Homo sapiens: one gene and its partners. The protein of the gene in region 3 purifies or fractionates together with the protein of the main gene of each other region. This does not show direct contact. Each region holds a gene or a part of one and is shown on either strand. Other genes may lie near its edges.

Region 1 (7,885 bases), on a different chromosome or scaffold from region 3:
GAAAGCTCAGTGACTACTGGAGGGTGGCTTGGTGTATCACTGAGAATTATAAGAATTTTAAAAGACAATTTTTTTCTCTTGCAATGTTTTATTTTTTTTTAATCTACAAAAAAATCACCCGAAAGATCAGAAAATATCTGCCCTGTCATCTAGTCTCTCTTGCTAGACCTGTAGTAGGCACCAAGGCTAGTCTTTACAATTCATTTTAAAGCTTATAGATTGGCAGAATGATAATCACAGGCTTTAGCTTTAAAATTCCACTGGCATTTGCACCCAGCATCACCATCAGTTGATCCTTTGTAGCCTTAAACCCCACAGTGTGTTTCTAGAGTACTTCCAGTCCTGCTTACTCCATTCTGGATCAATGCATCCAAATTCTCCACATATCCCCTTGAGGGCATCTGCTTCCAATAGAGACTGGTTTCATAAAAAGTAAAAATCTGAGCCAGGGGATGGCCTTCCTTATCAATCTAATTTCTTAATGAGGGGAAAATGTCTTTGCAGCTTCTTCATCTGCACTTACAGCCTCGTCTGCACAGACAGTTTAACACTGTGGAAAGTACAGTAGTTCTTGAAGATACTAAACCAGCCACTACTTCCACTAAATGAAGGCACTTCTGCGGGACTTCCATCTTTTTTTCTTAATGTCTCCATACATTGTGAAGGTATTTTCTTTAACTCTGAGAAAGACTGCATTGGATTGCTTCCTTGTTTGGTATTCAATCCACACACTTAACAAATGCTCCATTTCCTCCATTTCCTTATTCCTTGTTCCAACAGATTTCATAACACTGGCAGTTGTTCCAGCTAGATAATTTTATTTTTCCCATCATTGTCTCTAATTGTACATACATTTACTCCTTTATGCCAGTTGCATGACCAATCTCACAGTTTCTTTTCTTTCAAAACACTGTATAGTTTCAAACTTGTCTTCAATTGTTAAAGCTTTTCTTCTTTTATACTCACTAGCAGAAATTTTATCACAAGCACACTTCTATGGCACTTGCAAAACCCTCTGCTTGCTCCTTTTCTGGAATACAAAAAACTTTAGCAAAAAATACACAAAGATGGGAGGGAACAATGTAAATAAGTGCTTCCAAGACAGCCAGAGGAAGGATGTGGGGGCAAATGGGAATTATGTACAGTACTGTATGTATTCAGGACTTGCTGTGCTCAGCTACATCAGATACTCTGAATTCAGCTACTCCCACCTGGTGGCCCCAAACATCAACTTGCTGGGAAAACTCATACATGAGCTTACACAATTTCAGCATTATACTGACTCATTTCTGGCATACTGACCTCATTTTAAAAGATTTTGCATTCCAGAAACATGCGTTTTTAACAGATCAGACTGTATACATAAAGGGTTCACATTCTGAAAGAGTTCAGATAAATGTATGAATAGTATCACTAAAAAATATAAGAATGTCTGGCAATATCCACAATGTTCTAAAATTACTGTCAAAGAAGGCAAATATACTCCTTTAGAAACAACTCCACTGTAATGGCAAAAAGCTTTTAAAATTCTTCTAAAAATAATTTTGAGCTCAAAACATTTTACATACCAACTCTAGATACTGAAAAGAACCAAGGAAATCATGCAATTAGTATTTTCATTGTACAGATGAAGACATTAATGTCCCAGAGAAGGTGTAATATGCCCAAGGTTACACAGCTAATTAGTAACAGAGCCTAGATAGCTTCAAAAGACAGTAATTTTTTAAAAAAAATTTACTATTGTATATTTCTTTAATCTCATAGTCACTACATAAAATATATTTTCTACTGGTAAAAAATAGATCAAGCTTTTCCATTTGGTTAAATCATTTAATTATTTGTATCATACACAAAAACTGTTATCTCATATGCACGCATCTATTCATCTACACCAGTGATCAAATAAGAAATAATGCCCCAAACCAGGGTTTCCAACCACCAGCGCGAAATTACTCCCATTACTCCATTCTGGATCCATGCACCCAAATTCTCCACAGAAGATGGCACCTCCAATTTCTCACCTGCTGTCTAGGTTCATCAAGCTCCCTCTCCAAATCTTCCAGCAAAGTCACCACCTCTTCTCCACTCTCAGGATTATGCTCCCGCACCCAAGACTGGAGCTCCTCAGGCAGGATGGTCAGGAACTGCTCCAGCACCAACAATTCCAGGATCTGCTCCTTGGTATGTATCTCTGGGTTCAGCCACTGACGGCAAAGTTCCCGCAGTTGACTCAGAGCCTCCCTGGGCCCAGGTGTCTCCTGATAGCAGAACTGCCTGAAGCGCTGACGAGAGAGTTCCCTGGTATAAGACAAATTCCTACGTAGGGCTGATTCCTGATCCCAAGTGTGGTCTTCTTCTTTAACCTTTACTTTGATAATCTCCCCTTGTTCTTCTGGAGCCTGGCCAGCCAAGGCTGGGAAGACCCTAGAGACTGCTTCCATCCCGAGCTTAGACAGCTCAGGCAAAGGTTCTCTCCAGTTGGGGTCTAGGCAAATGGGTGATTTTACTTGAGCTCCTTTTTTGTTCTTGGTCAGGAAAGTTTTTGATATAAGAAAACACTCAACACAGGACAACTACAGACTCAGTTTAAAAGGACTTGTTTACGTGACAACACAGGGCAGTTACTCGGGCAATTCCATTGAAAGTGAAGCCATCCTCTGAAAAGACCAGAAATAGTGAGCACAGAGCGACTCACTAAAGCTTCAGGGTCACAAATTGAGCGGCAAGATACTTGCGAGACAGAAAACCGAGGTTATGACGGATACTTTGGCCCTAAATAAAGCCTGGGTGTATGAGCCTAGGCAAGGAAACGAAGATCGGAGCAGCCTGGGCGAGGGCGGAGAGGGAGAGGGGCTCACAAGCTGCCTGGGGAAGAGGCCCGATTGTCGCCGCGCACATGCACCCTTCCCTCGGCCGCAGCTCCCACCTCTGAGGAGCTCAGACCCTGTGGAACCCAGACTAGTGGGTCGAGGGAAACACTCTACAGCTCAGGTGGAGGTTCCGCAGACACACCCGCAGCTGTGCCCGTAGGTTCCGGCCGGGCCCGGTGAGCCACGCTCACTTCCGGTCCGCTCTAGGATTCCAGGTGGTGCCGTCTTCTCACTGGTTGTGCAAACACCTACGGTACCAGTAATTCTGGGGAGGCAAGTACTCTGGAAACGACGGAGAATTAACTCCGGAATTACCTAGTTATCTGGCATCACGGTGAAAAGAGTTCCACAGTGTGAGTAGTGCTGGAGTAGATGCTGCTGGTCTGTGTTTTCCTGTCACCGTGATAAACCATCGCTGGCACTCAGACCCGTGGTGCTCACCGCAGCGACCTGAAACAAAATGGAGAGGAGCATCCCTAAGGACTACCACGTCAGCGAATCTGTAGGATCGTCCCCCGCCTTTCCTCGTTAATTTCGGGCCACTTTCACCTTTCCCTTTCACCCTAAATCAGACTTAAAAAGAAATGTAAGAGTTAGTCCATTGTTTCCATTTTACGGATTAGAAAACCAAGACCACCGAGAATGAGCCTCAGTTGTTTAGTCACGGAGCACAGAGCCGTGACTAAACAACTGTGGGAAACTGGTCCCAGAAATCTAACAAAATCTGGACGGCTGATCAGCGCCTAGCGAATCACTGGAGTGGAGTAACCAGAACATTCTTTTCAAGCAGTCACTGGGTTCCTCCATACCTCTGGTAGCGCAGAGATGCCCAAGGAATATTTGTTGAATTGCTGCCTGGTTCCCTTCTCCATTCTCTGTTTCCTTCTGCTGTGGTCCTCATGTTGATTTCTCACATTTTGGCATTTCTGAGTAGAGAGTCTTTGAATAATCAGAACATCTCTTTTAGAAATCTCTAAATAAAAAAGAAATCTTACGCTTAGAGTCCGTGAATGGTCTTGAGTAAAATTCTGTATAAAATTTTTGTCTGTGTGCCTGTGTCATCCAACCCTGAAAAGATCATTTTCCCAGTCACTTTTAACGTGCTGAACTTATCTTTTGTTTCCCCCCCTAACTATCCTTTGCAATCAGGGATTCTACTACCTTTTTCTCATTCTGCAAGGCAGTGATCTCTGCCATGCTGAGCACAGTAGGCAGTTAACATGGAGTAAGCATGACTTCTAAGTCCTTTACTGACGAGCCTTACTGTTTTGTTTGTTTTGTTTTGTAGATTTGCATTTGTTAATTACTACAACAGTGATAGACACTTATAAAAAAAGTCAAATATTTAAAAAGTCAACGTGGCAAGAAGTGAAGTTTCTTCATCCTCAGTTCCATTCCTCAGAAAAATTGATGCCGAGTTTGTTGTATGTACCTCCAACCTATTTTTAAAATGTACATACAAAATTGAGTACAATATTATTATGTACAAATATAACTGAGTCACAATTATAACTCATTATAATTTGCAAAACTTAAATCATACTAGACTACAATTCACCAAGTTACTGGGCTTTTTTGGTTTGTTTTAAACTTAAATCCTCCCCCAGAAACTGCCAAGCCAACATGTGTTACATGTCTATCCCATTCTTTTTAGTGGCTGTAGAAGAGACTATTTTGATAGATATTGCTAAAAGATCTGCACCCCAGAGGGATGTTTATCGTGAGTCTCGCTAAAGTGTGTTAAGATCCTTTCCTTGCGCTGTGCTTTCCAAGGCCTTGGGAAGAGGTTGCTCTGTATGAAACATATTTTGTAAGATTTGCAAAAGTATGCTAGTATAGTGAAAATTAGTTAAGACAGCTTCCTCTCCCTACTCCAGCTTATCCTCAGATACATCATACAGGCCTTAGAGTACCCATAATTTTATGTTGATAACAGCTGTTCTTTTTCTTAAAGAGGACTTTCTAAATTGTTAAGTTTCAGACCTCACAAATCTGCCCCGGTTGATTTCTGGAAGCTAATTTATGCTCCCAACAAAAGCGCAGGAAAGAGTGAAGAGATCTCCCTGAATTTTATTTTGACAGTTACTCCTTCTTCAGCAGCAAAGCGTCAGCTTTCCTGTCAGCGTGAGTCTCACTGAAGCCTGACCTAACTCTTTCGGATCGGAACTAGAAAGTTTATTATCAAGGAGGTATTTAACCACGACTATACTTACCTACTGTACCCTTGTGGTTGGTCCCATGGTGTAATGGTTAGCACTCTGGACTTTGAATCCAGCAATCCGAGTTCGAATCTCGGTGGGACCTTTCAAAGGTGAACGTTTTACAGTTCCTGGCTTGGCCTCTGAATGTGGGAAAAATTCGTTCCTCCGCTTCCCATCGAATTCTCGTCGAAAACAACTTTGTGGTCGCGTGCACGGTATTGAACTCTCCCCTTCTATCCAAGCATGAAAGTACCAAGCTCTTTCGCCTAGAAGAACGCTTTCAAAGCGTATCAAATTCACGGGTTTGGAGACAAAGAGAAAGATGCTGCTCTTATCGACTTACGAAAAGCTCCAGCAGCAACGTGGAAACCCAATTCCTGTGATGGAGACAAACGCTTCCTCAAAATTTCCTAGGTTCGAAGCCCTCCTCGCTGCCACAACCAAGTCCTGCGTGTAAAGTGGCTGAGCCTTGGTCTCGGGCGTGTTTCTTTTGTTTGTTTTTTTGTTTGTTTTTTTTTTTTTTTTTCGCTGTGGACCTTGCGCCCCGGGTTACTTCTCGCCCCTTTTCCCTATCCCCCATCTTGATGAGACAATTCACCCTCATCTGCTTTCTCTAGTCCCCTGTACTTCTTAGTCTCTCCGCTCACCCCGACTGCAACGTCTGGAAATCCCTCCAAAGCCAGCAGCCCCGGAGGGCTCGGGTCCCTGGTATCCACGGCGTCGAGTCTTCCAGCCGGAGAGAAAAACTCACCTAGGACCGGACCTGGGCCTCGCCGCGCTGGGAGCTGGCATTCCCAATTCAGGACCAGACACGGTGGAGGGGCCCTACAACTTGTGTGGGAGACAAGGGAGATGGGGGTAAAAAGACCTCTGCCTTCAGCCGTTCGCCTGGCATCTCGCCTCTTCAGCTCCTAGTACCAGGGTGAAAGGAGGGGGCTCCCTGACCGAGTCCTCCCCAGACACTACCAAACACTCGGTCCGAAGCATCCGGGAAACAGTCCCTTGGAGCTGAAGGTCAAGAACAGAAAATGTAGCCGCTATCTTGCCTCCCCTGAACTGTGTGTGTAGACGAGGATTGAATTGGAGATAGAGTTGATGAAACCCGGAAGGTCTGGAAAATTCCTTATAGACACTAATTTAGCTGTTAGAATGAGGTGGGAAATGTGAGGTGTCAAGGTGAGGGAAAGGTGTGCCCTAGAGGACAGAGAGGACAAGAACTAAATTAGAAACAAGTATTTGTGTTTCGTACAAATTAATCTCTTCTATGATGTAAGAGACAACCTTTAAATCCAATTATTTATTTTCAGATTTCTTACTTTGACATTTTGATTTTCGCATACATACCAAAAAACCAAATCGAATCCTACTTTCACCAAGTCCATTAAACCATTAATAATTCATTAGCTCATATTTTGAATTACCATTGGTTACACAGAGACTCTGTAACTAAGTTTACAAAATTCATGAAAGCATTATTTTGGCTCCCGTTATGTGTGCTTGATTGTACTTCATATGGTCTGTAATGGTGCTAATTGCAGAGGGAAATAACATTTTCTTGTGGTGTTGCCTTAGCTAGTGTGGCCCCACCTTCTTTCCACTTTGTTGATGTTAGCGTGATGAGATCTCACCCAAAGTGTTCTCCCTTTTCCTAATGGCCTAACAGCCTCTTCTGCCTGTTTGGGATGCTTATAAGTCCAGCCATCCTTCCGACCAACACCATAGCCTGCCTGTGTTACTGTAAGTAATCATTATGATCACATCCATCGTCAAGCATCCACTTATCCTAGCTCAAACCAGTAACTCAGACTTTATCCCAAGCCTCTAAATTAAGGTAATGGACAAGACCTGATTGGAGATGGTGCCTGCACAACGTGACCCAGAACTGAACAGAAGGCCAAGGAGCAGCTGCTATGAGGAGGCGGAAGCAGCCACCAACACTGGGAGAGGCTGGGAGCATATGTAGATGCTCCCCCTGATGCCTTACATGTTCTGTGGGTCTACCAATTCCTTTAGGAAGCTGAGGAAATTCCCGTGGGTATTTATAAAAACTCCACCCTTGAACAAACTTTAGTTAGGTTCCTCTGAGCCCTCCTCTCAACTAGGTCCCATCCTTGGCTTGTCCAGCCCAATTTCAGCAAATAATCCAGTTGAGCCTAGTTTTAGCAAGAATCTTGCTAAGCCAATTCAGTAAGAATTCCTCACCTCAAAATCCTATCAAGTTTCTCTTTTTCCACCCTTGATATCTAATCAAGTTCCTCGTAGTCACTTTCTATCAAATGGTTGTCTTACCCTTACTATTAGCTATAGATCCCCAGCTGTCCCTGATGTATTTGGATCTGAGTTTATTTAATTTCTCTCCCCTATTGCAATTGTCTGGAATAAAGTCTTCCTTGCCTATTTAACTCCATCTGGTACATTTTTTCTTTGACAGTTTCATCAAAGATGTATAGGCATATCCTGGGAAAACTTCTTTTCCAAAGAAGATATCCAGCTAAGGATTGAGAATATGATCAGCTGCCGAGAGAAGATGTGTTCAGAATAGAGGACCAAGCAAATTAATGGTAGCTGATTTCCTGAGGAAATTAAAACAGACTTTAAAATCTGTCCATATCAAAAAATGTGTTACACCACATTAACAAAAATGAAGGATAAAAACCATGTGATTATATCCATAGATACGGAAAAAGTATTTGACAAAATTCAACACCCTTTCATCATAAAAACTCTCAAAAGATTAGTTTTATAGAGCCAGAGCAATTAGATAAGAGAAAGACATAAAAGTCATCCTAATAGGAAAGGAATTGAAATTAACTC
Region 2 (7,799 bases), on a different chromosome or scaffold from region 3:
ATGATGCTATGATCGTACCACTGCACTCCAGCCTGGTCAACAGTGAGGTAAAGGGATATAGTGTTTGCAACTGACTCTCAAATAGATTCAGGAAAAAAAAATACTGCATATGTGTATGTATGTGTGTGTATACATATACATATGCATCTTGGGGGGGGGGAATGCACTTCCTTGTACGAGTGTGTACACAACAATGGGACTTCATCAAACAAATGTTAACAACTGGCAAATTTGGATGAAGAGTTTTACGGGAGTTCTCTATTCTTCTAATACTTCTATAAATTAGGAGTTATTTCAAAATAAAACGTTAAAAATAAACCGATACATGTCCCCCTTTTCTTCTCCCACATCACCACACACATTCTCTTCCCACCTGTTGTCCTGTGTCTCCACTTCCTGTCTCTAGATTCTCCAGCACTGTCACTGCCTCCTCTCCACTCTCCAGAGGATATGTCTTCACACAGGGCTGGAGCTCCTTGGGCAGGATGGTCAGGAACTGCTCCAGCACCAGCAGTTCCATTATCTGTTCCTTGGTGTGCATCTCCGGTCTCAGCCATTGATGACAAAGTTCTCGGAGTTGGGCCAGAGCTTCCTGGGGTCCGTGAGCCTCCTGGTAGCAGAAGTGCCGAAAGCGCAGGCGGCAAATCTCCTGAGTGTGGGAGCTGCCCTCCTGTGAGTTGCACACCTGCTCCCAGGTGGGATCTTCCTCCTTCACTTTCACAAGGCCATCTTCATTTTCAGGAGCAGGGCCTGGCAAAGCTTCATACATGTTGAGCTTAGAGGCTAAAGCTTCACTTAGCTTGGGGTCTATATTCAGAAATAGAGATCTGAGGCATAAGAATTTATCAGCAACATGCAAATTATAAGAGCTTCAAAACTGTATGTAACCTACTTACATTTTTGTCCCCACTGTAGGTAATGCTCAAAAGCTGAGCCTGCTTGCTTCTATTATCAGTGAAATGAATCAGAAGTATATTTTGAACTAGTACTAAAGGGCCTGAGTCCAAAGGTAAGGGATGTAGGACATGAGGGAAGAAGTGTTAGCAATAAGAAAGCTCGAGTAGCTTGCACTTCAGCTGGGGAGAGGGGATAATTTACCCATTGAGGAGGCAGATGGCTGCCTTCATGGACAAATAATACAGTCTCAAAGGTCTTCTATATCTGTGTAACTCTCATTGAATATTCCACTTTAAATGTAGGTGTAACAGAATGTTTCCAAAGTCTCCCATTCTCAAATACCTTTTGTGATGAGATTTTGCCACTGTTGTCATTCAAGGGGTGGAGTCTCTTTTTCCTTCCCTTGAATCTGTTCTGGCCTATGACTTGCTTTGACCAGTGGAATACAGCAGAAATGACATTGTAAGAGAGAGTGCTGCTGTAGCTCTTGGCTCACTGCCATAAGACTGCCATGCTGTAAGGAAGCCCAAGCTAGCTATACAGAGGTCATGTGGATGAGAACCAAAATGCCCAAGTTAAAGCCCAGCCAGGCCTAGTGCTCAAATAATTCACCACCTGAATGCAGCTCTATTAGTAACTCCAGGTGAGACCAGTAGAACCGCCTAGTCAACCCGCATAATCCTGAGGAACAATAAGCTGAGCTTGTTTTCAGCCACTAAGTTTAGAGTTTTATTTTTGATGCAACAATACATAACTGAAAAACAGTAGACATGCATCAAGTTCTTTTATTCCCTCTTTTCATTTTTTCCTTTGTGATCTCCTTAGTCACACTTTCAATATATCTCTGTTCCAAGAAGACTCAAATCTTTGGCACCAGCTTGCTTTTTGCACTCCAAACCCACATCTTGAAATGCCAGCAGCTGTGGGCCTCTACTGCACTATAATTTCAACAGATCTCAAACTGAAATCAGAGTCCCTCAAAGCTGCGTTCACTCGGTATTTCTCCATTTCTACTGGCATCACCATCATCTTCCACGCATTCAGTCTTTTAAACAGCCTCTATACACAATCAGTGAGTCAATTCTTAAAAACGCCTCTTGCAGCCATTCTTTCCTTCTTATAATTTTACTATTATTTTCATTCACTGTTACAATAATGTTCTGTTACGGTATTCCTGCCCAACTCCCCGCTTCTATGGTCACTGGATTAATATTCCCTAAAGCACAGTTGTGACCATATTCAACATACCTCACACACACATAAACACACACAAAGTTTTCATTAAACTCGTTGAAGTAAATTCAAACTCCCCAGGATCTAATCTTTACTGGGTTTTGCTGATTTGTTTGTCACTCAATCAACATTTGTGGAGCATCTCATTATTTTCCAGGCATAAAGTTAACTCTGGAATAAAAGACTTGGTTCCTGCTTTCAAGAAAGCCATGGTCTTCCCAAATTTCTTATGTCACTGCCATGCTAAGTACTCAATTTTTTTCCACCCACTCTATACAGTCAGGACCGCCCTTCTAAGGGTAAATTCCCAAGGCCCAGCGTAAATGTTCTATTGTAAAACCTTCCCTGGCAACCCCTAACCCTAACATATAGACAGGAAAAGTAAGCCACACAGGTTGAGATGGGGTATTCCCATAGAAAACTGCACCCAACCCTCATCTCCATCTCGTATTACAGATCACCAACCCCATCCCCACCCGGGTTCTTGAGGACAGGAGTTTATCTCTGCATAGACTCTACATGCCCGGCACGTACCTGGTATTCAAGAAATACTGATGGGCTTCTTCACGAATGCACGTAAAGCACCTGAGATGCCAGCAGCCAGCACCCTCAGGCGCGCCCCTGAATGTATTTTTCTGAGATTACACCCAGCATCTAGCACCGCGCCAGGCACTGAATACCGGCGTGTCTAATTGTTGGTTAATGGACCAAAAGTTCAGGAACGCGCACAACAAAGACGTAGCTGACCTCGTGAAAGGCTCCCGAGGGAGCTCAGAGGCCCGGTGCTCCCCTGTCGGGAGCGCCGGTTTCCCCAGAGCCCGGGCCGCTGGGCTGGCGGGTCTGGCGGGCGCTGCCGGCGCCTCCAGCAGCTGGGCGGGTACAAAAGCTTCTCCCTGCGCCGCGCCCGCAGCGGAGTGGCGGAGTCTGGCGGGTTCCCTGCCTCTCTAGGAGCACGGCCGCTCGTCTCTCTGGTGAGCCGGGAGGACCCCCGCTGCCACCTCCTGCCCCGCCCAGGTCACTCTCCGCCGCCGGACCCCAGGCCCATTCGGACGGTGCAAGCACGCCCCAAATTTATGTACATCATTTCGATTGAAAACCAACACAGTGGTAAATGTCTGTCTTCGGGGTCATCACTGGCTGGTAGGAGAGACAGATCAATAAAAAGACCATTATAGTAAGCTGTACAAATTATTTTCTTTAAGTATACATAATATATGTACAATAAAAAAGTCAAGTTGCAAAAGGACCATAAAACGAAAAGTGTCCCCTCTTTAGAGTTAACCATTGTATTTTGTTCATATTTATCTAGGACACTACCTGCCACACAGTAGCACTTAATGAACATTTTGTTTAGTGAATAAGTATTTATACATTTTAAAACACTTATGGTATCATAATGTAATTTTGCACCTTAGCTCTTTTCGGTTAAGACAACTTGGAGATCTTCACAGATCAGCTTATTCTTTAACAGCTAAGTAATACTGTATGAGTGTTCCATAATTTACTTAACTATCCTATTGATGCATACTTAGGTTATATTTTTTCTTTAAAAGCAATGCTAGAGGGAACACCATTCAATACCTTTACATTCTTTTAAGAATATATTTCTAGGATAAATGCCACATATTAGAACTGTTCAGCCAAAGGACACGTGCATTTAAAATGCTGATATGCAAGTTCCCTATTTGATTTTTAAGGGCACTTCTGTTTAAGAGTAAAAGGAGACTTTAGTAGAAAAATTAGTAAAGGATATGAACATTACTACACACAAGATAAGTGACAAATTAACATGTGAAAAGATGTTCAATAGTAAAAATATAAAAAACTCTTTAAAAAACAGACCCATTATTTATTCATTTACCTACTGAGTTTTGGCAATTATGAATAAAGCCGCTATAAACATCTGTGTGCAAACTTCTGTGTAGACACTGGTTTTCAGCTCCTTTGGGTAAACACTAAGGAGGGCGATTGCTGTATCACATGGTAAGAGTATGTTTAATTTTGTACGAAACTACCTAACTGTCATCCAAAGTGGCTGTATCATTTTGCATTCCCACCAGCAATGAATGAGAGCTCCTGTTGTTCCACATCCATACCAGAATTTGATGTGTCAGTGTTCTGGATTTTGGTCATTCTAATAGATGTGTAGTGGCATCTCACAGTTGTTTTAATTTGCAATTTCCCTGATGGGATATGGTGTGGAGCATCTTTTCATATGCTTATTTTCCATCTGTATATCTTCTTTAATGAGGTGTCTGTCAAGGTCTTTGGCTCATGTTTGAATCGGGTTGTTTCCTTATTTCTGAGTTTTAAGAGTTCTTTCTGTATTTTGGATAACAGTCCTTTAACAGATATTTCTTTTGCTGTGGTATATGCAGACAATGGAATATTATTCAGTGCTAAAAAGAAATAAGCTGGCCAGACACGGTGGCTCAAGCCTGTGATCCCAGCACTTTGGGAGGCTGAGGCAGGTGGATCACTTTGAGCTCAGGAGCTGGAGACTAGCCTGGGCAACACAGTGAAACCCCATCTCTACTAAAAATACAAAAAATTAGCCGGCCGTGGTGGTGTGCGCCTGTGGTCCCAGCTACTCAGAAGGCTGAGGCTGGAGAATTGCTTAAACCCAGGAAGCAAAGGTTGTAGTGAGCCAAGATCGTACCACAGCACTCCAGCCTGGCCAACAGAGTGAGACCTTATGTCAAAAAAAAAAAAGAAAAAAAAAAGAAATGAGCTATCAAGGCATGAAAAGATATTGAGAAAATTTAAAAGCATATTACAAAGTGAAAGAATCCTGTCTGAAAAGCTACATACTGTATGATTTCAACTACAAGTTGAGTATCCCTTATCTGAAATGCTTGGGGCCAGAAGTGTTTCCAATTTCGGATTTTGGAATATATACATACATTATGAAATATCTTAGGGATGAGGCCCAAGTCTAAACATGAAATTCATTTGTTTCATATATACCTTACTCACATAGAGCTAATTTTATACAGTTTAAATACTTTCGTGCATGAAACATAGTCTTTTTTTTTGAGATTGAGTCTTGCTCTGTTGCCCAGACTGGAGTGCAGTGGCACAATGTTGGCTCACCACAACCTCCGCCTCCTGGGTTCAAGCGATTCTCGTGCCTCAGCCTCCCAAGTAGCTGGAACTACAGGTGCATGCTACCACACCCGGCTAATTTTTATATTTTTAGCAAAGACGGGGTTTCGCCATGTTGGCCAGGCTGGTCTCAAACGCCTGACCTCAGGTGATCCACCCACCTTGGCCTCCCAAAGTGCTGGGATTACAGGCTTGAGCCACTGCACCCAGCCGAAACAAAGTATTGACTGGATTTTGTCTATGACCTGTCACGAGGTCAGGTATGAAATTTTTCACTTGTAGCATCATGTTGGTGCTGAAGTTTCACATTTTAATGCATTTTGGATTTTGGGTTTTCAGATTAGCTGTACTCAACCTGTATACATGACATCCTGGAAAAGGCAAAACTATAAAGACTGTAGAAAGGTCAGTGGTTGCTAGGGGCTGGAAAAAGGGAGGGATGAATAATAGGTAAGGCACAGAGGATTTTTAGGGCAGTGAAACTATAATGGTGGACACGATATTATGTATTTGTCCAGACCCATAAAATGAACAATACCAAGAGTGAACCCTAATGTAAACTATGGTCTTTGGGTGATAATATGTCAATGTAGGTTCATCAATTGTAACAAATGTCACCCTGGGAGGGGATGTTGATAATAGGGGAGGCTATACATGAATGGGAGCAGTGGGTATATGAGAAATCTTTGTATCTTCCTCTCAATTTTGCTGAGAACTTAAAACTGCTCTAAAAAATGGTTTATTAAAAAAAGCAAACCATTTTGTACACATCAGATTGTCAAATATTCAAAAGAATAATTCCCAGTTTACGTGGGTATAGAAAATTGGGCATTATCATAGGCTGCTAACAGGGTGTACAAATTAGTGTAACTTTTCTGGAGGGCATTCTGGAAAATGCATCAAAAGCCTTAGAAAATATGCCTACCTTCTGCCTCATTGATTCTCATTATGGGAACTGAACAAAGAAAAAAATTCTGTAAGTAGGCAAAGTTGTATATACAAGGATGTTCACTGAAAAATTGTTTATGGTGATCAAACTGTAAATGACGTAAATGATGAACAATGGGGACATATACCATAGAATACTGCACAGCTTATATGGAAAATTATCTTCCACAAACACTTTAAATAAATCTGCAGGGATTTGTTTGAAACCTTTATTAGAAGGAAACAGTATTCTATGGACTCCCAAGACCAGGATATATATGGATTGCAGAGGCTGAGGGCTGAAGTTGTCACTCTGGTGATATGTTTTGGAGTGGACGCCCCTAATTTTAATATTCTTCATCTGTGACATTCTGCTATTCACAGTATAAAGATCATGATCTCCTCTCCAAGCTGACTTTATTGTTTAACTTCCGAAGTATTCCAGAACAAGCAACATTTCAAAATTGCATCATCAGTATTAAAGGGAAAAAGTCCAATTTCTTTCATCAGACATTTACTGAATAGTGTCTATGCAGCAGCCACTATACTGGCACTGGAGTTATCAAGTCAGACAGTTGCTATTCAGATTAATTCAGCAAGGTTCATTCAAATTACTCATGAAATCTCTTTCAAAGTCTAAGTAAAACGTTAATTTATAACTTGAATCTTGACATAATGTGGTGGGGAATGGGGATGGGAAATGGTAAAATTACATGAAGCTAACCCTGAAGGCAAGTTCTGAAGTTCACCAGCGAAAATTATCTTTGCTTTTGAAAATGCTTCCACTGGGGAAGGAAGGGGTAAGGCCAGTGGGAGGAATGAGGTGAAGCCACTGGGGGAAAATGTTCACCATTAACCTGTACTTTAAAGACACCTTTGAGAGTAGTATACTTCCAAACATCATCAGTTTTATTTCATAGGAGAAAGCTGCTATAGCATATCCAAAAATATCAATCTTCCCTTGTTCTGCTTAAGCCTGCAAATCTGTGGGCACTTGATTCACTGCTGACTTCAAAACTCTTACTCAGTCATGAAGCTCTCTATTGCTTAGAGTATATAATCATGCAGTTATGTTACATGCTCTGAGATGTCCTGCAGTGAAGAATGCTGTTTAACTTTGATCCTAGCATATCATCTACAGTGAAATTATTGTGGTCCAAAGCTGACTTCAAGGAAAGCAAAGGAGAGAGAATAGAGGCAGGGAGCCTCCAACTCAGCCCCCAAGAATTTTCTGATGCCACAGTGGGCTACGGTGACTTTTCCTAAAGTGCTGTTTGCTAGTCAATGTGCCTTCTCTGATGTTCTACAAGGAGAGAACACCTCATCAAGCCAGTTTGTCTTTGTGGTGATATCTCTGATGTTGAAAAAGACCTGACCTTTGCCTGAAGGCTTCTCCACATTCACTACACTGATAGGGTTTTTCTTCATTGTGGATTCTTACATGCTGAGCAAGGTGTGAGTTTAGTCGGAAGGCTTTCTGGCATATGTTACACTTGAAAGGTTTTTCTCCAGTATGAATTCTGTGGTGTCGAATAAGGTCTGAGGTCAAACTGAAAGCTTTTCCACACTCGTTACATTGATGGCTTTTGGAGTGACTATGGATTCTCTGATGGTGGGTGAGGAGTAAGGCCTGACTA
Region 3 (7,699 bases):
CTCAAGGAGGTGAAGCTGTCCTGATGGACACTCCTTAAATATGATTAAAGAAACAAGTGGAAAGAAGACAAAAGACAAATGCTTCTTAGAACAAAACAACTAAGATTAGAAACATAAGACTGTATAGGAACTACTGACCTTAGTCTTAACAGAAACCATGCTTTTATTTATTTATTTATTTTTGAGATGGAGTCTTGCTCTGTTGCCCAGGCTGGAGTGCAATGGTGTGATCTCGGCTCACTGCAACCTCTGCCTCCTGGGTTCAAGTGATTCTCATGCTTCAGCGTCCTAAGTAGCTGGGACTACAGGTACCCGCCACCACGCCTGGCTAATTTTTGTATTTTCAGTAGAGACAGGGTTTCACCACGTTGGCCAGGCTAGTCTCGAACTCCTGACCTCAGGTGATCCACCCGCCTTGGCCTCCTGAGGTGCTGGGATTACAGGCTTGAGCCACCACGCCAGGCCCAGAAACCATGCTTTTGAAGAATACTTCTTTAAGAGAACCAAACAGCTAAGACTCATTAATTCATATGCATAAGTGATTCACAATTCATTCTGAAAACCATGCCCACAAGGCTACTGAATATTACAATAAGAGATCAGCCAGGATTGCATAGAAGCTCCCAGATAATGGAAATAAGGGAAGCCTGAGAAATGCTCTAACTCTGGAGCCAGTTCAAAGAGCCAATCGGTATTTAGTGTGCTGCAAAGAGCTCAAAGAAATAGTCTCATGAGGGAAGCACTTTTGTGTGACTTTTTTCAGCTTTTACTGTTAAAACATTACTTCGACATTAAAGGAACCATTAAAAAAAAAATAAACCAATCAGCTGGGCACTGTGCTTATGCCTGAAATCCCAGCACTTTGGGAAGCCGAGGTGGGAGATGGGAGGATCACCTGAGCCCAGGAGTTTGGGACCAGCCTGTGCAACATAATGGGACCCCATCTCTACCCCACCAAAAAAAAAAAAAAAAGAAAAAACAACAAAAAAGGCAATCACGTTCCTTCATCTGAATGTATTTCTATTTTTTTCCATATCCATATTACTTACTTAACTATTTTAAAATACTTAGGTTGTTTCTAATTTCACTATTATAATTAATGCTGGGAGGCACATCTTTATGAATATACTGTTTTTCTCCTTTCAAAGTATTTCTTTCAAGCATGTCCCAAGGCCTCTGCTTGTTGAGGATCAAAGGAGAAGAGCAAATTCTGTCTTGCTATGTATTATCAAAATATTGCACAAAGACTGTATCAATTCACAATACCATCACAATCATAGTGACTTGTGAGGGCAACGATTTCTTCAAGTATTATTAGCTCGTTAGCAACAAAGTTGGGGGGGGACGGCACTTTCCTTTGTATCATTTTACTGTTAAGTATCACCAGTAACTAATCTCATTTTGTTGTTGTTGTTGTTTTGTTTTGTTTGAGACAGAGTCTGGCCCTGTTGCCCAGGCTGGAGTACAATGGCGGGATCTTGGCTCACTGCAACCTCTGCCTTCTGGGTTCAAGCGATTCTCCTGCCTCAGCCTCCCAAGTAGCTGGGATTGCAGACGTGTACCACCACGCCCGGCTAATTTTTATAATTTTAGTAGAGACGGGGTTTCACCATGTTGGCCAGGCTGGTCTCGAACTCCTGACCTCAGGTGATCCCTCTGCCTCGGCCTCCCAAAATGCTGGGAGTACAGGCGTGAGGCTCTGCACCCGGTCTAATCATATTTTTTAAATTGGGCAGGAGGTATATGATAGTGTTTGTACAACTTCAGCAAATGATGACTACTTTAAAAATCTTACGTGCGCCTCCGTCTTCCATCGTTATGTATCCTGCCATTTGACTTATTTTCTCACTTCACCAAGTATTGTTCTAGGCCCTGTATAAAGCCTGTGAGTTCATAAAGTTGTTACCAAATAAATGATACAACTTTACACAATGATGTGCTATGAAACAAACAATAGCAGACACACATATTAACAGAATTTACTATGTGCCAAGCACTGTTTTGAACACCTTAGTAAAAATAAACAAAGGTTAAATCCTCATAAAAGCCCTAGATTATTTTTACCCCCATGTTGTAGACGGGGAAGCAGTCACAGCAAAGCCAGGTACTCTGGCCAAGGGCAAAGCTGGGGTCTGAACCCAGGCCGTCCACATTTATCCATGGTGCTGTGTGGTTAGAGGCCATAGGCAGCAGGGGCCCTTGTGGTGACCCCTGCGCGTTGTCTCAGCGCAGAGGAGGAAGTGGCGGCAGGCAGCCGCGCTCCCAGATGAAGCGGGGCCAGAAGAGTCTGGGGAACAAGACCTGAGAGGTGGGAAGGGTTGAGGCCACCGGTTTGGAGCCGTCAGGTACCCTAAGGGATATATGAGGGACCCCGGGGCTAAAGCAGCCTCTGGAAGAGAGTGGCCGCCCTGTCACTTCAGCACCAGGCGCAGAATCTGTGCTAAACCTGAGGTGAGGGTAAGGAACCCCCGACACCGCACGACAACCAGAAAGAACGTCCCTGGAGGGGAGGCTTCGATCAAAGCCTGGGACGCAGGGGTCTTTCTGCAGGGGACGCCGCTCTCGGCTCTACCCTGCTGTGGTGGGCCGGCTCTGGGAGGGCTGGCTTCCGACCATCTCCCGACCTCCCGCGCCCACCGCGCCGCGCCGCGCGCCTCCCAGGCTGGGAACCGCCGGGGCGAAGCGGCAGGTGGCGCGGGTTCACCTGGCAGGGCAGGCGCCCGGGGTCCGCCGGGGAAGGACGAGGGGAAGGGGTGCGCGGACTCAGGGGCAGGCAGCGGAGGGGAGGGGCCTGGGGATCTGGGACGGTGTAAGGGTGCTGCACTTGCGCGCGAAGGGAGGGGTGGCGACGAGTCCGCGGCCGCCTCTCCGCGTCCCCCTTCCACCACCCGGGGACCACCGCCTCTGACCGCAGCCTGGGGGCCCTAAAGAGGCCTCGGGTCTCACCTCCCGACGCCGTCGGGGAGAAACCGGGGAACTGCCAGCTGCGCAACAACTTCCGGTTCTGGTGGCGGGTCGGGGCGGGGCCCGGAACGCGGGGACGTTGCCATGGAGAAGAGCCGCTGTGGCCGCGCACTTGGGACAGGGAAAGAGAACCGGGAGGCTCGACCGGTGGGAATCCAGCTGCTCTGCTCAGTGTTCCGTTCAATAAACTAGCATTGTTGCTTCGCAAAGTGCTTTTGCTTACATTATTCATTTACTCCGGTAACTCAGTAAGGTTATTCCCATTTTACAGAAAATAAACTCAAATGTCCTGTGACTTGCCAAGGATTACAGAGAGGGGCGAATGCTGTGCTGTCTACCGCTGAGTACAATCCCTAATACCATTCCCACTCCCGAAGTGGTTACACCCCAAGTACTGACGTTTTAAGGGACAAGTTTGACATCCGCAACCCCATGCTTTCACAGGAGAACACAATGGCCCTTGAAAAAGTGAGAACTGACCCACATAAAATTTGTTACAATACATACACATATCTCTCCTCAGATAATCTTAATCTCAATTGAAAAATAAGTTTGAGGCCGGGCGCGGTGGCTCATGCCTGTAATCCCAGCACTTTGGGAGGTCGAGATGGGCAGATCACATGAGCCAAGGAGTTCGAGACCAGCCTGGCCAACATGGCTAAACCGCATCTCTACAAAACATACAGAAATTAGCCGAGTGTAGAGACGCATGCCTGTAGTCCCCGCTTCTTGGGAGGCTGAGGGGTGAGGATCACCTCAATCTGGGGAGGTGGAGACTGCAGTTAGCCATGATTGCGCCACTGCCCTCCAGCCTGGGCTGCAAAGTGAGAGCGTCTCAAAAAATAAATAAATAAATAAATTTAAGCCTAAATGCACCACAGCCCCACCTCGTGACTTCCTTCTCTAGCCCCTTTCCCTAGGGACTCCTGGAAAATGTACTTGTACTCGTAACTGAGGAATTAGGGAGAGGACGGAGATGCTTGAAAAGCACTTGCTAATTAATAAAGAACAATAACAAAAAATCCCTTTTGGTATGACGCCGCCCCAAAAGTATGTTAGTACTGGAATCTGAAGTGAAGAAAGAAGAGGCTGGTTTACTCAGTTTATGACGCTAGGGGACTAGGGAGAGGTTTGGATCCCAATTAGAGTACAGTAAAACTAAATCTGAAGAAATTCTTGCTTCAAACAAGGGGCTTTCACAGGATAAGACTTTTTGCTGATGCAGCTGCCAACACAAATAGCAAACAGCCCAAAAGTGCAGGTGGGAATGTGTTTCTGGCGCTGGTGGGTAGGGTAGGTTAAATGACTCACGTCAGGGGAGAATTTGAAACGAGGGCAAGGCTTGGCAGTGGTGTGAAGTCACAGGAGACAATTTAAGGAGAATATGAACGACAGTCAGAAGCTTCAAGGAGAAGGAGGAACTGTGGGATGTGGCAAGAGGTCAGGGATGATGAATTCATGGGTATGGTCCACCAAACAGCCAGATATCAGAGGCCAAAGTTAAAAACAGCAACAACAAAAAAGGGAGCAGACATAAAAGATTGATTAGAAAAGTTTCACAGTCAGGTAGTTAGAGCAAGAACAGGTTTTTGTTTGCTGTTTTAATTTTTTAAAAATTTTGGGGGTAAAGTGAAAAGAAATTAGCAGGAATAAGGTCCCAGTAGGGTGAGCACCTACTATATACCAGTTGTATCGTAAACACCGGGAATTCAATGGTAAAATATAGATTCTTGCCCTTTAGGGGCTAATAGACTAAGTAAAGAGAAAGATGAATAAATTGACTTTTCTAAACAATGTGGCAACATTCTGATGGAGACAACTGCAGGATACTATAAAAGCACAAAGAAAGGGAGGTCCTGGGTAGAGACTGGGATTGGAGTTGATGGAGAAAGCTGGTGTTGATACATTTGAGACTGAGGTACCAGTGTGGGATGTTGTTTAGATTTGCTGGATTAAAGGACAGCAGGATGAGTGGCTGAGGATGAGGCTGAAGAGGCAAACAGCAGCCTAGTTTTAAAGGGTTTGACAGGCCAAGTAAAGGGCTATGAACTAAGGTTTTAAGCAGAAACTTGAATTAGTGGCATGTGCACATCTGCAATTCAGGTAGGGCTCTCTGATAGCAACACGAAGGATAGATCTGAAGGGAGGCAAAACTCAAGACAGGGTTACCAGCTCTGAAGCTGTTGCAAAGATCCAGGCTGCAGCTGGTGAAGGTCTGAACTAGCACAGAGGGGACGAGAATGGAGGCAGATTCTGGAAACACTTGGGAGGCTGGTGCTTGCTTAGATGGAAGACTGACAGATGATTGGGTACATAATGTGTCATTCAGGGAAGTTAAACAACAGAGTATGTTTGACAATGGCTTATGTGGATATTTGAGGGGATTTTTGGGTAGACTGGATCAGAAGCTGAATGGGATGCTATCATCAATAACTGCACATAATTGGACATTTTGTGTGATCATGTGAAAATAAATATCAAACATGTTTTATATCTGAATGCTTCCCTTATATAGGTATGTAAAGATCTCTATGACTTTTATGAACCATTTCTAAGGCAATCACTCTACAATGACATTATAGAGACATTTATTTCTCAACTTTGTACTCTTCACCACTCCCTTCATCCCAACATATTTGCTCTCCACCTAGGTAGAAGCTTTTAGGGGCATGGATCTGTGTCTGTCTAAACACATAACCCTTGTTTTTTTTGACCCGAGGTGCATGAAGTGGATGTATTATACACAGCTGCCATGTTTCTATAGGATAAGGAATTAGAAGGTTAAGAAATTTAGGTTGGCTCAAGCATGGTGGCTCATGCCTGTAATCCTAGCACTTTGGGAGATCGAGGTAGGAGGATTGCCTGAGCCCAGTAGTTCGAGACTAGCCTGGACAACATGGCAAAACCCCATCTCCACAAAAAAATACCAAAAATTAGCTGGGCATAGTGGCATGCACCTTTGGTCTCAGCTTCTTGGGAGGCTGAGATGGGAGAATCACTTGAGCCCAGGAAGTCAAGGCTGCAGTGAGCCATGATCATTCCACTGCACTCCAACTCGGGCAACAGAATGAGACCCTGTCTCAAAAAAAAAGAAACTTAGGTTTATAAACACTGCATGTTCTCACTTATAAGTGAGAGCTAAACATTGAGTACACATGGACACAAAGAGGGGAATAATAGACATTAGGGCCTACTTGAGTGGGGGGTCGGGGTTCAAAAACTACCCACTATGCCTATTACCTGGGTGATGAGATAATATGTACACCAAACCCCCATTCAGTTAATCTGTATAACAAGCCTCCACATGTACCCCAAAACTGAAATAAAAAATTAACAAAAATAAAAACTTTAAAATTAAAAAAAAAAGAAATTTAGATTGAGCAATAAAAAGCAATTTGCCTACAATGGAACTATGGTTTCCAAGCAAGTGGTGGATGGGTTGTATGTGTAGGAGTCCAAGTGTGGGTACACACTTGTCAACCTGAAATAATAAAAGGGTCAGAATCCAGTTTTAAAGAGTTTATTCAAACAAAAAGCTGGGAATAGCCATTCCAGGACACACAGACTCCAGAGAAATGGGATCAGTGCTCCAAAGTTAAAAGTTAAATCTTGCTAATATAGGAAGAAGACAAAGAAATTTATCAGGATTGCAACATTTTCTATACAAGGCTGGCTTAATAGTTTCAACAAATTAATTAGTTAGTTTGTTTTCTTTTCCATATAGCTTGTTTTCTTTATAGTTGGTTTTCATTTGGTTTCCAATTTAAAAGAGTGTATTTAACATTCTATCTTAAGTCAATGTGATAGTCAAGAAGTCTGTGTGTGAGAAAGGTAAGAGAAAGGTGAATCTATAATAAAGGCCAACAGTGGAGAGGGAAGGGGTCTTCCTCTTCCCTTTGGCCATATATAACATTTTACAAAACAATGCAGGTAAGGGAAAAGGCTTCATCTGTAATCAGAGAAACAGAAGGTTATAGCTCCCTAGTTTATAGGTGCCTACCATGTGACTCAGGATCAGTAATAACATTCTTCCAAGTCCTAAAATAATTTAGAGTTCTAGCAGCTTAGATTTCGAATGACTCTTTTTCACACAGTGAACAGATATGAGAGTTTGTGTGAGGGAACTAGGGGAGCTCTCTCTCCCTTAGTGGAAGACGTGAATAAAGTATCAAGTTGGGAAAACAATTAAGGAAGTGTATTAGTCTGTTTTCACGCCGCTGATAAAGACATACCTGAGACTGGCAATTTACAAAAGAAAGAGGTTTAGTTGGACTTACAGTTCCACATGGCTGGGGAGGCCTCACAATCGTGGCAGAAGGCAAAGAGGAGCAAGTCATATCTTACGTGGATGGCAGCAGGCAAGAGAAAAGAGAGCTTGTGCAGAGTAACTCCTGTTTTTAAAACCATCAGATCTAATGAGACCCATTCACTATCATGAGAACAGCATGGGGAAAGACCCGCCCCCATGCTTCAGTCATCTCCCACCGGGTCCCTCCCACAACACATGGGGATTATGGGAGCTACAAAATGAGATTTGGGTGGGGACACAAAGCCAAACCATATCAGGAAGTATCCCAAACTGAGTTCATCTTCTCTCTCCATCACCCTCAATAGGCCAAATTCCTTGCTTTGATAGTGAAACTGCTGTTAGCTCTATGTTCCAGGCAGTAAGTCTTAGGAGTCATCTTACACATTTTTCTTTCCCTTGTTTATGAAATCCAATGTGGTCTCAAAG
Region 4 (4,902 bases), on a different chromosome or scaffold from region 3:
TCTGAGATGGAGTCTTGCACTGTCACCTAGGCTAGGGTGCAGTGGCACAATCTTGGCTTACTGCAACCTCCGCCTCCCAGGTTCAAGCAATTCTCCTGCCTCAGCCTCCTGAGTAGCTGGGATTACAGGCACGCATCACCACAGCTGGCTAATTTTTTGTATTTTTAGTAGAGACAGGGTTTCACCATGTTGGCCAGGCTGGTCTCAAACTCCATGATCTGCCTGCCTCAGCCTCACAAAGTGTTGGGATTACAGGTGTGAGCCACCACGCCCGGCCCATGAATAAGTACTTACTAAGTCTCTGTGATTTGGGGGTCATTACAACAGACTGCCTGCTCAAACACAGTGACAGAAAAAGAGGCACCAGTTTCTGTATCTACAGGGAGCAGTTAAGTTTATGCGCAGGGAGCAGTTAAGTTTATGCGCAGGCAATGGGAATGATACTGTAATCTTGAGAATAAATGCAATCAATGAAAAGATCACCTTATGTAGCCCAAGGAGTTTAGTCTCCTTTGCTCAGACAGACAGATCTTTATTAGTGTTTTCAACTTATTTTGCTCACAACTTCCCAGCAAGAAATGTCTTACATTGCAACCAGTTCTCACATTTAGATGTATGGGTGAAAAGTTTCACAAAACAGTATTTGCCTTTACTACATGATGCATTCTGGCCTACTTTATTCTGCTTCATTGCTGTGTAATGCTGGTGACCACTTGCTAATTGATTTCCCATTTTACTAAATGGGCTGGGACCCACGGTCTGAAAACCCTGCCTTAGGCTGCAAGCATTTCTGTGATCTCTGCGAGCTACTCCATATAGGTAAACACACGCGAGGTAAACTAGGAAACAGCTTCTGCTTTTGCAGATTAGAAGTGAAGTTGACATCACGCCAAGTACGAAAAGGCTAAACAGCTGACAAAATTTCCACTTGAGCAACCCTGGGGAGCGCAAACAGGAGGAATCGGGGCAAGGGTGACTTGAAGAAAGCACTGGCAGATCACGCACTTTAAGGCAACTCTACACTGCACAATGTCAAATAACCTAGCATGGGGCGGCACTAAATGGCTGCAGGAAAGCCGAGTCTTCTTCCACATCCGGCGGCTCCCCTCGGATGCGAGCGCTGGCCCAGGGTGTGTTTACAGAGGTGAGGGCTTCCCGTGGACCCTTCTCGTTGGGAGCGCTTAGCCTCAGGAGCGGATTCAGGGCACAGGCAGAGGACGTCCACAAACACCACAGGAAGCCGCCACCCAGGGGCGTGGAAAGGCCCAATGCCTCGTCTGGGATTCACGGCCGGCAAAGCGGCCCCTCCGGAACGGGACAGCACAGCGGCTCACCTCTGCGCCTCTGGGGGTGCGGGGGGAGCCTCGCCCTCCACGCTCTCTGGGGGACCGCCCGCCCTAGCCCCCGCCTGGGCTTCGCGGGTGGACGGTTGGGGGCCCCGGGCGCCCCCCAGCGCGTAGCTTTTCTCCTTCTCGTGGGTCTTCTGGTGCTCGGCTAGGGCCAGGCTGAAGTGGAAGGTCTTCCAGCAGCCCTGACAGGCGTAGCGCTTCCGGCCGCCATGGCTGCTGTGGTGCTCCATCAGGTGCGAGAGCCACGCGAAGGCCTCCCCGCACTCGCCGCAGGCATAGGGCTTCCCGCGGGACAAGCCCGGCTCGTCAGCCCCAGGGCCCTGCCCGGCCTCCAGCCCTGCGCTGTCGCCGGAGCTAGAGACGCCCTCGAGGCTCTGCCCGTCCCCATCCTCGGGGTGCGGCCTCTTGGTTCCCAGTTTCGCCGTGCCCCTGTCCGGGGCAGGCTGCTGGATGACGGACTGCCTCTGCGATCCGGTGGCAGAGTCGGACTCCGCGTCCTGGGGGTCCTGCGGGTCCGGGGCCTTCCCAGGCTGCTCTTCCTCCTCCTCAGTGGTGCCCGACGGGGGATCGGCAAGGGCGTCCCCAGGGGGCGCCTCCGTAGGCAGCTCAGGCAGCACCCCCGCGGGGGCGGCCTCCTCGCAGGCGCACCCAGCGCTCTCCTGCCGCCTCCCGCCTTCTGGAACAAGGTCAGAGCCCTAGCGTGAGCGCCCCGCCCAGGGCCAGGGAGAGGAGGACCCAGCCGAGCCTCAGCTGCCGGAACAGCGCACAGGGCTCCGGGCTCTGGATCCCCGCGGGGCTCACGGCTGTTTGGAAGCAGCGCTGTCCCTCCCAGGCAGCCCTGCAGCGCATGCCCCGCGCCTGCTGCTGCAGATGTGGGACCTGGAGGCCTCCAACAACGGAGGCCACCGACAGGACAGGAAGGACAGCCCCACTGAGCCCGGGTTCTGGAAACCGCGCCTTTGGAGGTCTCCACCTGGCCACTAGCTTGGCCACAAGATGCACGATGCAAGGAGAGCCTGCTCAGAGCGCACCCTCCTGGAGGGAGGGGCCCGGCTGCCAGCGAAGAGAGTGGGGTCAATAGCTAAGGCCAAACCCCCCAGCGACAAGCCCCCTGGCGACAGGCACCCAGGGCCCTCCAGCCCAAGTCCGCCTCTAGGTGTTCTTGTTGGTGTGCTGGCACAGAGCCTCCAATGGGGCAGAACGGCCACCCCCGGGACCAGTCATACACAGATCCTGGCAACTAACACCACTGCCGTTTCCACCGACCAAGTCTTGGGGTGGTCTGTCATGCAGCAAGAGACCATGGACGTAACTGGATTCCTGCCTCACTCAGACACGGTGGTGGGAGAATGGTGAAGCAGTCAATGCTGAGGTCTTTGCTGGGGCTGATGGCGCTGGGAGGGGCCCCCTCAGCCTCTGAAGAAAAAGCAAACCCCACCCGGCCCTAACACCAATTCAACCCAACCTCACCTGGGAGGCTGCTTCCTTGTGGATCTCTTTCCACCAACCGGAGTTCCTCAGTGTCCAGCCTGGAGGCAGCGTCAGGCTGGGAAAGCTGATACCCTGAGTGGGGTTAAAAACCAAAGAAATAAAAGGCATCAACACAGAGTGGCTGATGGGTGTTGTGTGTCGTGGGCCAGCCAGGGCAGGCTGCAGCCCACCTCCTCTTCTCTGTACTGGGACCCCCACCAAGGCCACCTCCCTGTTAGGCCCCTGGACAGTGGAGCAAAGAAGAAGGCGAGGCTGGAAGGGCAACGGGGCAGGCGGAGGCAGGACTCAGAGAAAGCAAAGCTAAAGAAAGACATTGACAAAAATTGCTCAGGAGTCTGAGTCGGGGGGCCTCCCTAAAAGGAGGGTTTCTGGGGCAAGAACGTCTACAAAAGAGGAGACCCTTGATCAGGCCATGCAGGTGAGGCCCTGTATCTGGCAAGGAGGGTGGCAATGTGGGCGCCTTGGGGCCAGGAGGCCTTTCCAAATTCCGAGGCTTCAGTCCTACAGGCAGGGCCTGGGCAGAACTCAGATGTTTAGATCAGAAAGGGTGGGGGCTTCAGCGAATAAATTCAAGCTCCAACACGTGCAAGTTCAAATCCTGTAAGACATCACAGTGTCCCAGCCAAAGTCCCTGGGGTCACAGTCTCCTGCACCAACCCCTGCGGAAGGGGATGGGGAGTGGGGCGTGACCCCGAGGCAGGCGACTCTCACCCCACAGGAGCAGCTTCCGGTAGCTCTTCAGGTTCTCCTCGGCAGGGTCCAGGTGGCCCCACTCCCCCAGGTGCTGAGGGTCCTCTGGAAAGGACTTCAGCTTCTGAAACATTAGTCGTGGCTGAGACCTCCCACCTGCCCTAGAGAAGGGAGGACCCGCCGCAGCCCCACAGCCACAGGAGCAGGCTAGGAGCCAGCCCTGGCCAGGGACTCTAACCCAGGTGCACTGCAGGAGGCAGCCCCCTTCGCACCACAAAGATTCCGCCCTCACGCTCCCACCAGGGTGGGTTCTGGGCCTCAGCGCTGTGGACGTTTGGGGCCACAGCCCTCTGCTGAGCACTGGTGATGGGGAGGGGGATGCCTCTAAGCTGAGGCCAAGGCCCCTCACCCACCTGCTCGTGCCCACCCACCTGCTCGGTGTTGGCAGGGCCGTCCTCTTCGGTCTTTGCTTCTCTGACCCTCCTCTGTTCCAGAAACAGGGGGTCCGGAGAAAGCCAGGCTGGGGAGAAGGAGAGGCAGAGCTGAGGCAATGAGCTCCCTGTGGCCAGGTGCCCTCAAGGGTCAAGGAGCCCCCGCTGCCTCCCACACAGGCCCCAGTGTGCTTCTGTGACAGCAGCACCCAAGGCTCAACGGACACTACACCTTTCCCTGATTTACAAAGCAGCGCGGTGGCCACAGGGCTTGGGTGGCCCCAGAGATGCCCATTCAAGTCCACTGGATTCATGGAAATCTTTTTTTTTTTTGGTTTGTTTGTTTTTTAAAGACAGGGTCTTGCTCTGTCACCTAGGCTGGAGTGCAGTGGCATGATCTTGGCTCACTGCAACCTCCACCTCCTGGACTCAAGCAATCCTCCCACCTCAGCCTCCCAAGTAGCTGGGACTAAAAGTGCGGACCCGGCTAATTTTTGTATTTTTTGTAGAGATGGGGTCTCCCTATGTTGCCCAGGCTGGTCTCGAATGCCCGGGCTCAAGTGATCTGCCCGCCTTGGCTTCCCAAAGTGCTGCGATTACAGGCATGAGGCACTGTGCCTGGCCTTCGTGGAAATCCTAAAAAGCAACACCACATAGTGCTGGGCTGTATCCAGGCCAGTGGGCACCTTCCGTGCTGGTAATGAACAGCCACAAAACTTCTGGAAAACCACATGGAAGTTTCTATTTTATGTGAAATGTCGAACTCACACACCACTTGCCCAGTGGTCCTGAGGAGTCCACCCACAGTGCCCAGAGCCTCACATATGGGCACACAAGTCAGGAGGTGTCAGGGCAGCTTCACTCCAAGGGGCAGAGAGCCCACCTCTAGGATGGGGATGGGCTGAGCACGCGATGCTGGGCAACTAAAGAACCAGACCCAA

What was found.
Region 1: the proteins of ZNF396 (region 3) and SCAND3 purify together in Homo sapiens (affinity purification with mass spectrometry; 3 studies listed by BioGRID and IntAct, with this or other methods). This does not show direct contact.
Region 2: the proteins of ZNF396 (region 3) and PGBD1 purify together in Homo sapiens (affinity purification with mass spectrometry; 4 studies listed by BioGRID and IntAct, with this or other methods). This does not show direct contact.
Region 4: the proteins of ZNF396 (region 3) and ZSCAN18 purify together in Homo sapiens (affinity purification with mass spectrometry; 4 studies listed by BioGRID and IntAct, with this or other methods). This does not show direct contact.

Annotation. Positions count from the first base shown.
Region 1 is NC_000006.12:28,584,277-28,592,161, forward strand, and holds the start of SCAND3 (SCAN domain-containing protein 3), read right to left. Parts: upstream 3,023-7,885; 5' UTR 2,442-3,022; coding exon 2,022-2,441; intron 1-2,021.
Region 2 is NC_000006.12:28,276,784-28,284,582, reverse strand, and holds the start of PGBD1 (piggyBac transposable element-derived protein 1), read right to left. Parts: upstream 3,012-7,799; 5' UTR 2,665-3,011; intron 828-2,664; exon of another isoform or gene 808-827; 5' UTR 770-807; coding exon 374-769; intron 1-373. Other genes in the region: ZSCAN26 (zinc finger and SCAN domain-containing protein 26), read right to left, coding at 7,487-7,799.
Region 3 is NC_000018.10:35,374,332-35,382,030, forward strand, and holds the start of ZNF396 (zinc finger protein 396), read right to left. Parts: upstream 3,007-7,699; 5' UTR 2,947-3,006; intron 2,621-2,946; exon of another isoform or gene 1,796-2,620; intron 34-1,795; 5' UTR 1-33. UniProt on the Homo sapiens protein: Isoform 1 and isoform 2 act as DNA-dependent transcriptional repressors.
Region 4 is NC_000019.10:58,083,355-58,088,256, forward strand, and holds the end of ZSCAN18 (zinc finger and SCAN domain-containing protein 18), read right to left. Parts: intron 4,051-4,902; coding exon 3,962-4,050; intron 3,655-3,961; coding exon 3,552-3,654; intron 2,913-3,551; coding exon 2,820-2,912; intron 2,026-2,819; coding exon 1,331-2,025; 3' UTR 502-1,330; downstream 1-501. UniProt on the Homo sapiens protein: May be involved in transcriptional regulation.